3 linked regions of the Homo sapiens genome follow. The protein of the gene in region 3 purifies or fractionates together with the protein of the main gene of each other region. This does not show direct contact. Each region holds a gene or a part of one and is shown on either strand. Other genes may lie near its edges. The genes, in order: PLXNA1, NFS1 and CLEC4M.

Evidence for each region.
Region 1: the proteins of CLEC4M (region 3) and PLXNA1 purify together in Homo sapiens (affinity purification with mass spectrometry; one large-scale study listed by BioGRID and IntAct). This does not show direct contact.
Region 2: the proteins of CLEC4M (region 3) and NFS1 purify together in Homo sapiens (affinity purification with mass spectrometry; one large-scale study listed by BioGRID and IntAct). This does not show direct contact.

What each region holds. Positions count from the first base shown.
Region 1 is NC_000003.12:127,013,971-127,017,614, forward strand, and holds part of PLXNA1 (plexin-A1 precursor), read left to right. Parts: intron 1-49; coding exon 50-146; intron 147-211; coding exon 212-405; intron 406-507; coding exon 508-659; intron 660-740; coding exon 741-861; intron 862-1,213; coding exon 1,214-1,350; intron 1,351-2,546; coding exon 2,547-2,714; intron 2,715-2,973; coding exon 2,974-3,067; intron 3,068-3,454; coding exon 3,455-3,644. UniProt on the Homo sapiens protein: Coreceptor for SEMA3A, SEMA3C, SEMA3F and SEMA6D. Necessary for signaling by class 3 semaphorins and subsequent remodeling of the cytoskeleton. Plays a role in axon guidance, invasive growth and cell migration.
Region 2 is NC_000020.11:35,689,284-35,692,927, forward strand, and holds part of NFS1 (cysteine desulfurase isoform a precursor), read right to left. Parts: intron 3,088-3,644; exon of another isoform or gene 2,966-3,087; intron 1,283-2,965; coding exon 1,130-1,282; intron 1-1,129.
Region 3 is NC_000019.10:7,761,805-7,766,074, reverse strand, and holds the start of CLEC4M (C-type lectin domain family 4 member M), read right to left. Parts: upstream 2,833-4,270; 5' UTR 2,809-2,832; coding exon 2,763-2,808; intron 2,683-2,762; coding exon 2,599-2,682; intron 891-2,598; coding exon 807-890; intron 438-806; coding exon 1-437.

The sequences.
Region 1 (3,644 bases), on a different chromosome or scaffold from region 3:
GCCTGGAGGCCGCTTAGCTGGGAAGCCTGACGGTGCCATCACCTAACAGTACTCCTACGAGGGGAACGATGTCAGCGACCTGCCAGTGAACCTGTCAGTCGTGTGGAACGGCAACTTTGTCATTGACAACCCACAGAACATCCAGGGTGAGTGGGCGCCCCGGCGGGGTGGGCAGTGGGCGGGCCCGAGCTGACCGCACCCCTCCCCACAGCGCACCTCTACAAGTGCCCGGCCCTGCGCGAGAGCTGCGGCCTCTGCCTCAAGGCCGACCCGCGCTTCGAGTGCGGATGGTGCGTGGCCGAGCGCCGCTGCTCCCTGCGACACCACTGCGCTGCCGACACACCTGCATCGTGGATGCACGCGCGTCACGGCAGCAGTCGCTGCACCGACCCCAAGATCCTCAAGGTAGGGCCCCCAGCCCTGCCCCCACACCCCATGCCCCGCCCTGCACCACCGCACACCCTACGCCCTGTGGGATGCCTGTACCCCAGCCTCTGCCTCCCTCAGCTGTCCCCCGAGACGGGCCCGAGGCAGGGCGGCACGCGGCTCACTATCACAGGCGAGAACCTGGGCCTGCGATTCGAAGACGTGCGTCTGGGCGTGCGCGTGGGCAAGGTGCTGTGCAGCCCTGTGGAGAGCGAGTACATCAGTGCGGAGCAGTGAGTGCAGCCCTGGGTGTGTGCGGGGCGGGACGGGACGGGGCGGGGCTCCTGCAGCCCCTGAGGCCCGCCTGCCCACAGGATCGTCTGTGAGATCGGGGACGCCAGCTCCGTGCGTGCCCATGACGCCCTGGTGGAGGTGTGTGTGCGGGACTGCTCACCACACTACCGCGCCCTGTCACCCAAGCGCTTCACCTTCGTGGTGAGTCTGCTGCCCTCCCTCTCTCCCTATTCTCTGCTGCTCTGAGAGGGTGCCGCTCAGGGCTTCTGTGCCTCTTCAGGGCCCCTTGTCTGGCCATGCTCTGCCACTGCTTTTCCACGGCCTGGGTGCTGCCCCTCCCCTCCTGTGCCTAGGCCAGCTCCAGGGCTCCCTGGCTCACCTTGGGCTGTGCCTGAGAAACCTGGAAGTACTGGCTCTGAAGTGCAGCTCCCGGGCATGCGGGCTCCTAGTCTGGGGAACTGTCTGTGGGGGTAAGCAGGCCAAGTGGGGCCTGTCCCCATGTGGCCCGAGGGGGACTTTCCTGAGAGTTTCAGCAAGTTCCCTCTTCCTGCAGACACCAACCTTCTACCGTGTGAGCCCCTCCCGTGGGCCTCTGTCAGGGGGCACCTGGATTGGCATCGAGGGAAGCCACCTGAACGCAGGCAGTGATGTGGCTGTGTCGGTCGGTGGCCGGCCCTGCTCCTTCTCCTGGTACGGGGTGCAGGTGGGGGTGGGGGCCTGGCTGCCCCTCCTCCTGTTTCAGATGGTTGCATGCCCCTTCTTGTTGCCTGGGCAACGGGGCTATGGAGAGCCTGGCTGGGGTGATCACTGTGAAACCCAGAGGCGGAGGTTACCATGGAAACAGGCTACCTCCAGAGTGGTAGGACTGGGCGGTGATGGGCGTGGGGCCTGCCTTTGTGGGGCGGGGCAACTTGGCTGCCTCTGCCCTGGTTCTTCCCTGTGGGGAAGGGGGGAATCCCTTGGGTACAAAATAAGAAGTATTTTTTAAAAATTTTTAAGAGAGAAAACAGAAATCTTAACAAAAGCCCTGAGGCTTGAAGTGGATAATTTTAGATTAGGGATGATAATGGAATGTCCCTTTAAATATTTTCCTATGGTAATTACCCGTTATCAGACTAATCATTGGTGTCTGCAGCTGAGGGGGCCTGGTGGCTGTGGGGCTCCTGGCAGTGGTGGAAGAACTGAGGGTCCGGACCCAGGTGTGGGCTATGCCTGGCTGCCTGCCCAGTGGGGTGTCCCCGTGACCCCCACCCAGGCCAGCTCATCTAGTCTCCTCACAGCCCCCTGGGATGCGGGGATAGGGCGAGGTATTCCCACTGGGACAGGTGCCGAGAGGGAAGGTGTCTGCCTGGCCCAGGGTAGTAGGAGTGGGTGCTGGGCTCCCAGCACTCGGAGCCCCGGCTGAGTGAGGCTGGCCCTGAGACAGGCAGGGAAGGTCGCGCCAGGGCTTAGTCTCGCCAGCCCTCCCCAGGGACAGAGGGAGGGCAGCATGAGCCTACCTCCCAGCCTGGCGTGCGTGGGACGGGCCTGCTGCCTACTGCCTCTGGGGAGGCAGAGGCCTGGTGGGTGTGGAGCCCTGGCCAGGGTCACCAGGAGTGGGTGTGGGCGACAGGGAGGCTGTGATGAAAGCAGACCTGGAGAGGCGGCAGGCCGGGTCCCAAATGCCAGGCTGGGCAACAGTGGGGGCCTGAAGGGGCTGGGAGCCAGGGCGAGGGTAGGACAGACATGCACAGCCCTGGGAGGGAAAGTAGCGGTGATAGTATGCAGCCACCCAAGGCAGTACCTGTGACAGATGGCGCTGTTCCCACCGTCCCTCAATGCATCTGCATTCCACCTGCCTGGGTTCCACCCGTGTGCTCCTCACTGTCCCACTCGGGCACCTCCAGGAGGAACTCCCGTGAGATCCGGTGCCTGACACCCCCCGGGCAGAGCCCTGGCAGCGCTCCCATCATCATCAACATCAACCGCGCCCAGCTCACCAACCCTGAGGTGAAGTACAACTACACCGAGGACCCCACCATCCTGAGGATCGACCCCGAGTGGAGCATCAACAGGTGGGGCCCAGCAACACCCATTCCCTATCCCCAGCTATTGAGAGCAGCGCTGAGCCAGGAGCTCTTCCACTGGGCACTTGGCGGTGGCCCTCCTGCATGCCGGGTACTATCCTGCCGGGAAGCACCCCTTGCCAAGAGCTTTTACCTGTTTCCTGTCTTTGGGGAAGGCAGGCTTTGCCTGGCTGAGCTGTGGCCCACGTTTCCAGCTCACTGGGCCCCAGCATCATTTGGTGACCCCCCCACCCCTGTCCTGTTCCAGCGGTGGGACCCTCCTGACGGTCACAGGCACCAACCTGGCCACTGTCCGTGAACCCCGAATCCGGGCCAAGTATGGAGGCATTGAGAGGGAGAACGTGAGTCCCTGCCCTCAGCTGCCCACCTCGGTCCAGGCCTTCACCTGGGATGGGGCTCCTGCTAGGAATACCCGTGTCCCTGCCCCTGCCCCTACCCCTGCCCCTTCCCAGCTTATGCCAACCTTGGCTGTGCCTGGAGACCCCTGGGGAGGCACCTGTCCTGCCTGGCGGGTAGAAGGTCTGGCTCTGGGTTGCTGGCTGCACACACCTCTCCTTCAGGCCACATGTCCCTGGTCCACGTCGGGTGGGTGGCCCAGGACCAGCCCTGCTAGTGCCTGGCATCATCTGTGCAGGGAGCAGGCAGCCCCCAGGCCAGGGGCTCTGTCACTGGGAGCTGCCGGGCCACTCGCGGAGGTCCCGCCCAGCATCCCCACCCTGTGTCTCCAGGGCTGCCTGGTGTACAATGACACCACCATGGTATGCCGCGCCCCGTCTGTGGCCAACCCTGTGCGCAGCCCACCAGAGCTGGGGGAGCGGCCGGATGAGCTGGGCTTCGTCATGGACAACGTGCGCTCCCTGCTTGTGCTCAACTCCACCTCCTTCCTCTACTACCCTGACCCCGTACTGGAGCCACTCA
Region 2 (3,644 bases), on a different chromosome or scaffold from region 3:
TCAAGACCAGCCTGACCAACATGGTGAAACTCTGTCTCTACTAAAAATACAAAAATTAGAGCCAGGCATGGCGGCTCATGCCTGTAATCCCAGCACTTTGGGAGGCCGAGGCAGGTGGATCACGAGGTCAGGAGTTCGAGACCAGCCTGGCCAATATGGTGAAACCCCATCTCTACTAAAAATATAAAAAATTAGCCAAGTGTGGCCGGGCACGGTGGCTCACGCCTGTAATCCCAGCACTTTGGGAGGCCGAAGTGGGTGGATCACGAGGTCAGGAGATAGAGACCATCCTGGCTAACATGGTGAAACCCCGTCTCTACTAAAATACAAAAAAACACTAGCAAGGCGTGGTGGTGCATGCCTGTAATCCCAGCTACTTGGGAGGCCGAGGCAGGGGAGTCGCTTGAACCCGGGAGGCAGAGGTTGCAGTGAGCCAAGATCGCGCCACTGCACTCCAGCCTGGCAATACAGCGAGACTCTGTTTTAAAAAAAAAAAAAAAAAAAATTAGCCAGGTGTGGTGGCACGTGCCTGTAGTCCCAGCTACTCAGGAGGCTGAGGCAGGAGAATCACTTGAACCCGGGAGGTGGAGGTTGCAGTGGAGTGCCACTGCACTCCTGCCTAGGTGACAGAATGAGACTCTGCCTCAAAAAAAAAAAAAAAAAAAATTAACTGGGCCTGGTGGCATGCGTCTGTAATCCCAGCTACTCGGGAGGGTGAGGCAGGAGAATCATTAGAACCCAGGAGGCGGAGGTTGCAGTGAGCCGAGATCGCGCCACTGCATTCCAGCCTGAGTTATAAGAGCCAAACTCTGTCTCAAAATAAAAAAAAGAAGTAACAAGTCCTCCAGAGGTTGCAGAGAGCTGAGATCAAGCCACTGCACTCTAGCCTGGGCAAAAGAGTGAGACTCCATCTCAAAAAAAAGAAAAAGAAACAAGTCCTCCAGAGAAAAGGAGGACAGTACACACTCAAGGGGAACATGATCTCGTTCTCTGCCAGGCTTATTTCTCTAAACTTCATCCTAACTGTTAGATCTATTCCTTCAAGCTCCAGCTAGGGCCCAAGAGAGAAATTTACAAGCTGAAGCCAGGCTCCTCCATTTTTGCTCCTCCTGCCAATAGCCACTCCTACCTTTAGGTCAATGATCCCACTCTTCTGCACTGGGAGGTAGGTGACCTGAAAGCCCTCAGCTTCCAGTGAACGGCAGGAGTCCAAGACACATTTGTGTTCTGTCTGGGTGGTGATCAAGTGCTTTTTCCGTGACCTGTAGAATCGGGCCACCCCCTAGAAATTGGTGGTGACAGATGGAAGGAGAACATACTCAGAGAGACAGCAATGACTTCAATCTCATTTGTAAAGGAAAAGTGGGCAAGAACAGTATGCTCCAACACCAGTTCTCTCATACCAACTGAGTATCCTATAATTCAATTCTGAGGCTAACTCTCCAGACTTAGTGAAAACCCCATGGGTTAAGGGCTCAATCGTACAAGACTGCCCCTAGTTCAGATACCAGACATAAGTCCCAGGGGTCTCAAGCTACCCATACTTCTGCCCAGTCAAATACAAATTCAGGGCTTCCCGAAGCCCGGTCAAGTTCAATAATTCACTAGAATAAATCACATTTGTCCAAACCCATAGAATGTACAACACCAGTGAATCCTAATATAAGCTATGGACTTTGGGTGATAATGATGTATCAATATCAGGTCATCAATTGCAACAAATGTACCACTTGATGGAGGATGCTAATAATGGCAGAAGGCTGTGCATACCTGGGGGCAGGGCATATATAGGAAATTTCTATACCTTCCTTTCAATTTTGCTGTGAACCTAAAACTGCTATAAAAAATAAAATCTATTAAAATAATAATAGTATACAGATTAATGTAGGTATTTAAAAATCTGGAGAAATATACAGCAAATTAGCAGTGAAAATGTGTTTAGAGTTCTACTCTATATTATTGGAATTTATGATTCATTCATTTAACCAATATTTAGCACCTCCAGTATCCCAAGTAATTTTCTAGGTGCCAGTGATATAACAGTAAACAAGTCATGAGTAGGTATTACTGTTAATATCACAAGAAACAATAAAGGTACATTTAAAAATTCCTGGAATTTCAACTATTACAAGAAACTAAAAAAAACATTTATCTCATTGAAGAAAAAAAAAAAGCGGCCAGGTGCAGTGCCTCACGACTGTAATCCGAGCACTTTGGGAGGCCGAGGCAGGTGGATCATCTAAGGTCAGGAGTTTGAGACCAGCCTGGCCAACATGGGGAAACCCCATCTCTACTAAAAATTAAAAAATAAGCCAGGCCCGGTGGCACGCACCTGTAATCCCAACTACTCAGGAGGCTGAGGGAGGGGAATCACTTGAAATCAGGAGGCAGAGGTTGCAGTGAGCCAAGAGTGCTATTGCACTCCAGCCTGGGCAACAGAGCGAGACTGCATCTCAAAAAAAAAAAAAAAAAAAAAAAAAAAGAACGCCAGGTGCAGTGGCTCATGCCTGTAATCCCTCCACTTTGGGAGGCTCAGGCAGGTGGATCACGAGGTCAGGAGTTTGAGACCAGCCTGACGAACATGGTGGAACCCCATCTCTACTAAAAATACAAAAATGGCCAGGCGCGGTGGCTCACACCTGTAATTCCAACACTTTGGGAGGCCGAGAAGGGAGGGTCACCTAAGGTCGGGAGTTCAAGACCAGCCTGACCAACATGGAAAAACTCCGTCTCTACTAAAAAAAATACAAAAATTAGCCAGGCGTGGTAGTACATGCCTGTAATCCCAGATACTCTGGAGGCTGAGGCAGGAGAATCGCTTGAACCCAGGAGTTGGAGGCTGCAGTGAGCCGAGGTCACGCCATTGCACTTCAGCCTGGGCAACAAGAGCAAAACTCTGTCTCAAAAAATAAATAAATAAATAAAAATAAAAATACAAAAATTAGCGAGGTGTGGTGGCACGCACCTGTAATCCCGGCTACTCAGGAGGATGAGGCAGGAGAATCGCTTGAACCTGGGAGGCAGAGGTTGCAGTGAGCCGAGATCATGCCCCTACACTCTAGCCTGGGCGACAGGGTGAGACTCCATCTCAAAATAAATAAATAAATTAATTAATTAAAAAAAAAAAAGGGGGCTGGATGTGGTGGTGGCTAATGCCTATAATCCCACCACTTTGGGAGACTAAGGCAGGAGGATCGCTTGAGCTCAGGAGTTCAAGACCAGCCTGAGCAACATCATCTATACTAAAAAAAAAAAAAAAAAAAAAAAAAAAAAAATTAGCCTGGCGTGGTGGTACACATCTGTAGTCCCAGCTACTCAGGAGGATCACCTGAGCCAAGGAGGTCAAGGCTGCAGTGAGCTGAGATCTGGCTACTGCACTCCAGCCTAGGTGAGATCAAGACTCTGTCTCAAAAAACAGAAAAAAGAAAAAAAAATGGGCCAGGAGCAGTGGTTCACACCTGTAATCCCAGCACTTTGGGAGACTGAGGCAGGTGGATCACCTGAGGTCAGAAGTTTGAGACCAGCCTAGTCAACATGGCGAAACCCCGTCTCTACTAAAAATACAAAAATTAGCTGGGTGTGGTAGCAGGCTCCTGTAATCCCAGCTACTCAGGAAGATGAGGCAGGAGAATCGCTTGAACCCT
Region 3 (4,270 bases):
CTCACCCACTGCAGCCTTCAGCTCCGTCAGCTCCTGGTAGATCTCCTGCAGCTTGGATTTCTCTGGCAACTCACCCACTGCAGCCTTCAGCCGGGTCAGCTCCTGGTAGATCTCCTGCAGCTTGGATTTCTCTGGCAACTCACCCACTGCAGCCTTCAGCCGGGTCAGCTCCTGGTAGATCTCCTGCAGCTTGGATTTCTCTGGCAACTCACCCACTGCAGCCTTCAGCCGGGTCAGCTCCTGGTAGATCTCCTGCAGCTTGGATTTCTCTGGCAACTCACCCACTGCAGCCTTCAGCTGGGTCAGCTCCTGGTAGATCTCCTGCAGCTTGGATTTCTCTGAGAGCTCACCCACTGCAGCTTTAAGCTGGGTCAGGTTCTGGTAGATTGCGTCTTGCTCGGATTGTTCCTGACTTAGGGAGCTGGGGACCTTGGACACTGGGCCAAGAAGAAAAGGAACTGCAATTATTAAACACCTACTGTGTGCCAAGCCCTGAACTGAGCCCCATAGAGACATCATTTGTGAGAGCCAAGGTCTCAGTTAATCCCCTTTGAAGATGAGGAAAACTGACACCTGGAGAAGGCAGCACAGAAGGCCAAGGAGAGCCAGGTTCTTCCCCTCCTCCTCCTCCCTCTCCTGTCCTGCTCTAGAGTGGGGAGGGGCTGTGGGAGAGGCCCCTACAGACCCCCAGGGACAACATCTTGGCTCTCAGTCCCACCTCCCTCCCAGACCTGGCCACTCCAGGCTCTGTTCATAGCCAAAAGGCCAGGCCTGGGGACCCCAGACCCTCAGAACCTGCCCCTGACCTTGGACAAGGATGGCCACCAGGACCCCAGCCAAGAGCATGAAGGAGAGGAGTTGCAGCACCAGGGCGCCATGGCCAAGACACCCTGAGAGAGGATACATGCGTCAGCCTGCCAGTGTTCCCACCTGAGCCTGGCCCAGGGAGAGCCTGGCCTAATCCCTCAGCACCCCAGGACCCAGGAACCCCAGCCCCAGCCCCCTCCACTCCAACACCTGGGAATCCAGGCCCTAGCTCTAACCTCCCCAGGACCCAGGAACCCCATCCCCAGCCTCTCCCTCCCCAAGTCCCAGGAGTTTAGGTCCCAACCCCCACCTCCCCAGGTCCCAGGAACCCAGGTACCTGCGTCCACCTCCCCAGTGGAACAGGAATGAAAAGAAATTAAAGAATGTGTAAGCAAAAACTCAGTTGTATGTAAGAAAACCCAATTCCCCCTGAGGAAGAGAAAGAGGTGGAATCCTTTAAAAATTAACTGCCTTTTTGGCCAGGCATGGTGGCTCACACTTGTAATCCCAGCACTTTGGGAGGCTGAGGCAGGCAGATCACAAGGTCAGGAGATCAAGACCATCCTGGCTAACACAGTGAAACCCTATCTCTACTAAAAATACAAAAAATTAGCCGGGCGTGGTGGTGGTGGGCGCCTGTAGTCCCAGCTACTCGGGAGGGTGAGGCAAGAGAATGGCATGAACCTGGGAGGCAGATCTTGCAGTGAGCCGAGATGGCGCCACTGCATTCCAGCCTGGGTGACAGAGCAAGACTCTGTCTCAAAAAAAATAAATAAATAAATAAAAATAAAAACTAAATAAATAAAATAAAAAAGAATTAACTGCCTGTTTTTCTGTGTGTGGCTAGTGAGCCTTATCTCTCCCTTTCCCAGGCATTGTGAAGACCCTGTTTCTCTAGCTGTGCAGCTGCAAGGTCACTAGGCAGATAAACTCAAGTTGTAAAACATGTTTTTCCTTGAAAAATAAGAAATGACGTAATGCATGTCTCAATTGAATAACTATCTTTGTTTCTCGCTTCTGTAATATGCTTCCCCCTGCACAGATCTCCCCCTACCCCATGAAATGCTTAAAAGGTAACTTGACTCTTTGTTTGGGGCTCAGTCTTTTTGGATGTTAATCTGACTGGGCTGGTGCACCTAAATAATAATAATAATAATAAATCCTCCTCAACCCCTTGATCTCTGTGATTCCTAAATTATCCTGCAACACCAGGACTCAGGCATCCAGGTCCCAGCCTCCACATCTCCAGGTCCCAGGAGGAACCCAGGCCCAAGCTCCCACCTCCCCAGGTCCTAGGAACCCAGATACCTGCTTCTACCTCCCCAGGACCCACGAATTCAGGCCCCAGTTCTCACCTTCCCCAGGACCCAGTAATCTGGTCCCAGCTCCCACCTCCCCAGGACCCAGGATTCCAGTCCCCAGTTCTCACCTGCCCCAGGACCCAGGAATCCAGGCCCCTTCTCCCACCTCCTCTGGTTCCAGGAGTCCAGGCTCCAGTCCCTACCTCCCATGGACCCAGGTGTCCAGCTTCCAACCCCCACCTCTGTAGGTCCCAGGAGTCCAGAACCCCTCTCCCACCTCCCCAGGCCCCAGGAACCCAAGCCTCAACCCCCACCTCCCCAGGTGTGAGGAGTTCAGATCCCTACCCCGTCCTCTTCAGGACCCAGGAACCCAGGTCTCAGACCTTCCTTCCCCAGAACCCAGGATTCCAGACCCCAACACCTACCTCCCCAGGACCCAGGGGTCTGGGAGGCTCTGTCTTCCACTATCTGCTCCCTAACTCTTGCCTACCTGTAGAGCTCTTGTGGCCATGTATCTGCTGGAATTGAAAGTCTCTTGGAAAAAGTCTGATGCCACTGGTTGTTGGATCTTCTTCTGAATTGACAGACATCAGCTCAGAGCCTGGGCCATCCCTTCCCCTTACCCAGGATCCCAGAGTTCCAACCCAGCCTTACCCAGGAGGCCCAGCTGCTGCACCCTTGGTTCCTTGGAGTCACTCATGTTTTCCCGCTGTCCCCAGATGTTCAGGACTCCTGGGGACCACAGCTTTTATTTTCCACCCTCTGATCCTCACTTTCTAAATCTACTGTCTCTCAGGAAGACAAACAGGAAGCTGGGTAAGATCACATCACCAGAAAGGCTAGTGAAAGGAGTCAGAGCCTGAGATCGGCCTGACCTTGCAGGAATTTCAGGGAGGTGTTGGGGGATGGTCTGGGGTTGACAGGGAGAAGGACTCCTCCACTCATGACATGGTTGAGCGATGGGATGCTTTTAATAAAATTCAATTCATTCTAATGGAAAGCGACTTTGTTATGCCTCCCTACGTAGGGCAGGGGTGGGCAGGCAGTACCGCCTAGTTCCTGGAACCACCATGCCCTCTGACCTCCAGGATCTGCTCTTTTGGTCTGCGGATGCTCTCATTCATGGGAATTTCCTTTGTTTTTGGGAGTTGGAGATGAACGATAGTTGTTTATTTCATACCTATGATAGGCACATTTCCAACAGCTTTATAAAACTCCTTCATTTAACTTTCCTACCCTGCAGTAGATCATGTGACCTCCAGTTTACAGATAGGGGAAAATAGAGGCACTGCGAGATTAAGAAACTAGCCCAAGGTCACACAGCTGGTAAATGGTGGAGCTGAGATTCGAATCCAGGCAGTTTTCCTCCACACTCCACCCAGTTAACCAAAGAGGGTCTAATAACATCAAGGGCAAAATAGAAAGATTTATAGTAACTTTAGTTAGACTATCCCAACCCAAATTGGAACAACCCATGTGGCCACCAGCAGGTGAATGAAAACAAATATCATGGCATATTCAGAGGGTGGAATTCTATACAGTAATGAAAAAGCAAAGTACTGATACAAACAACAATTTGGATGAATCTCACAAGAGTTAAGAAACCCAAACAGAATGAATACATTCTGTAAGATTTTGAGTTTACATGAATTTCAAGAATAGGCAGAAGAACTAACCTTTGATGGGACTCAAATTGGGGGCTTTCTGGAAGGAGTGGGTGTAAACTGACCAGAATGGGGTAGAAGGAAATTTTCTGCTGACAATGTTCCATATTTTTTTCTGAGAAGTGGCTGCATGGATGAATTCATATGTCAAAATTTCTTCTCTTTCTTTCTTTCTTTCTTTTTTTTTTTTTTTTTTTGAGACAGAGTCTCGCTCTGTCACCCAGGCTGGAGTGCAGTGGCTGATCTGGGCTCCCTGCAACCTCCGCCTCCTGGGTTCAAGTGATTCTTCTGCCTCAACCTCCCGAGTAGCTGTGACTACAGGTGTGCGCCACCACATCTGGCTAATTTTTGTATTTTTATTTATTTATTGGAGACGGAGTCTCGCTGTGTTGCCCAGGCTGGAATGCAGTGGTGCAATCTTGGCTCACTGCGACCTCCACCTCCCAGGGTCAAGTGATTCTCCTGCCTCAGCCTCCCGAGCAGCTGGGATTACAGGTG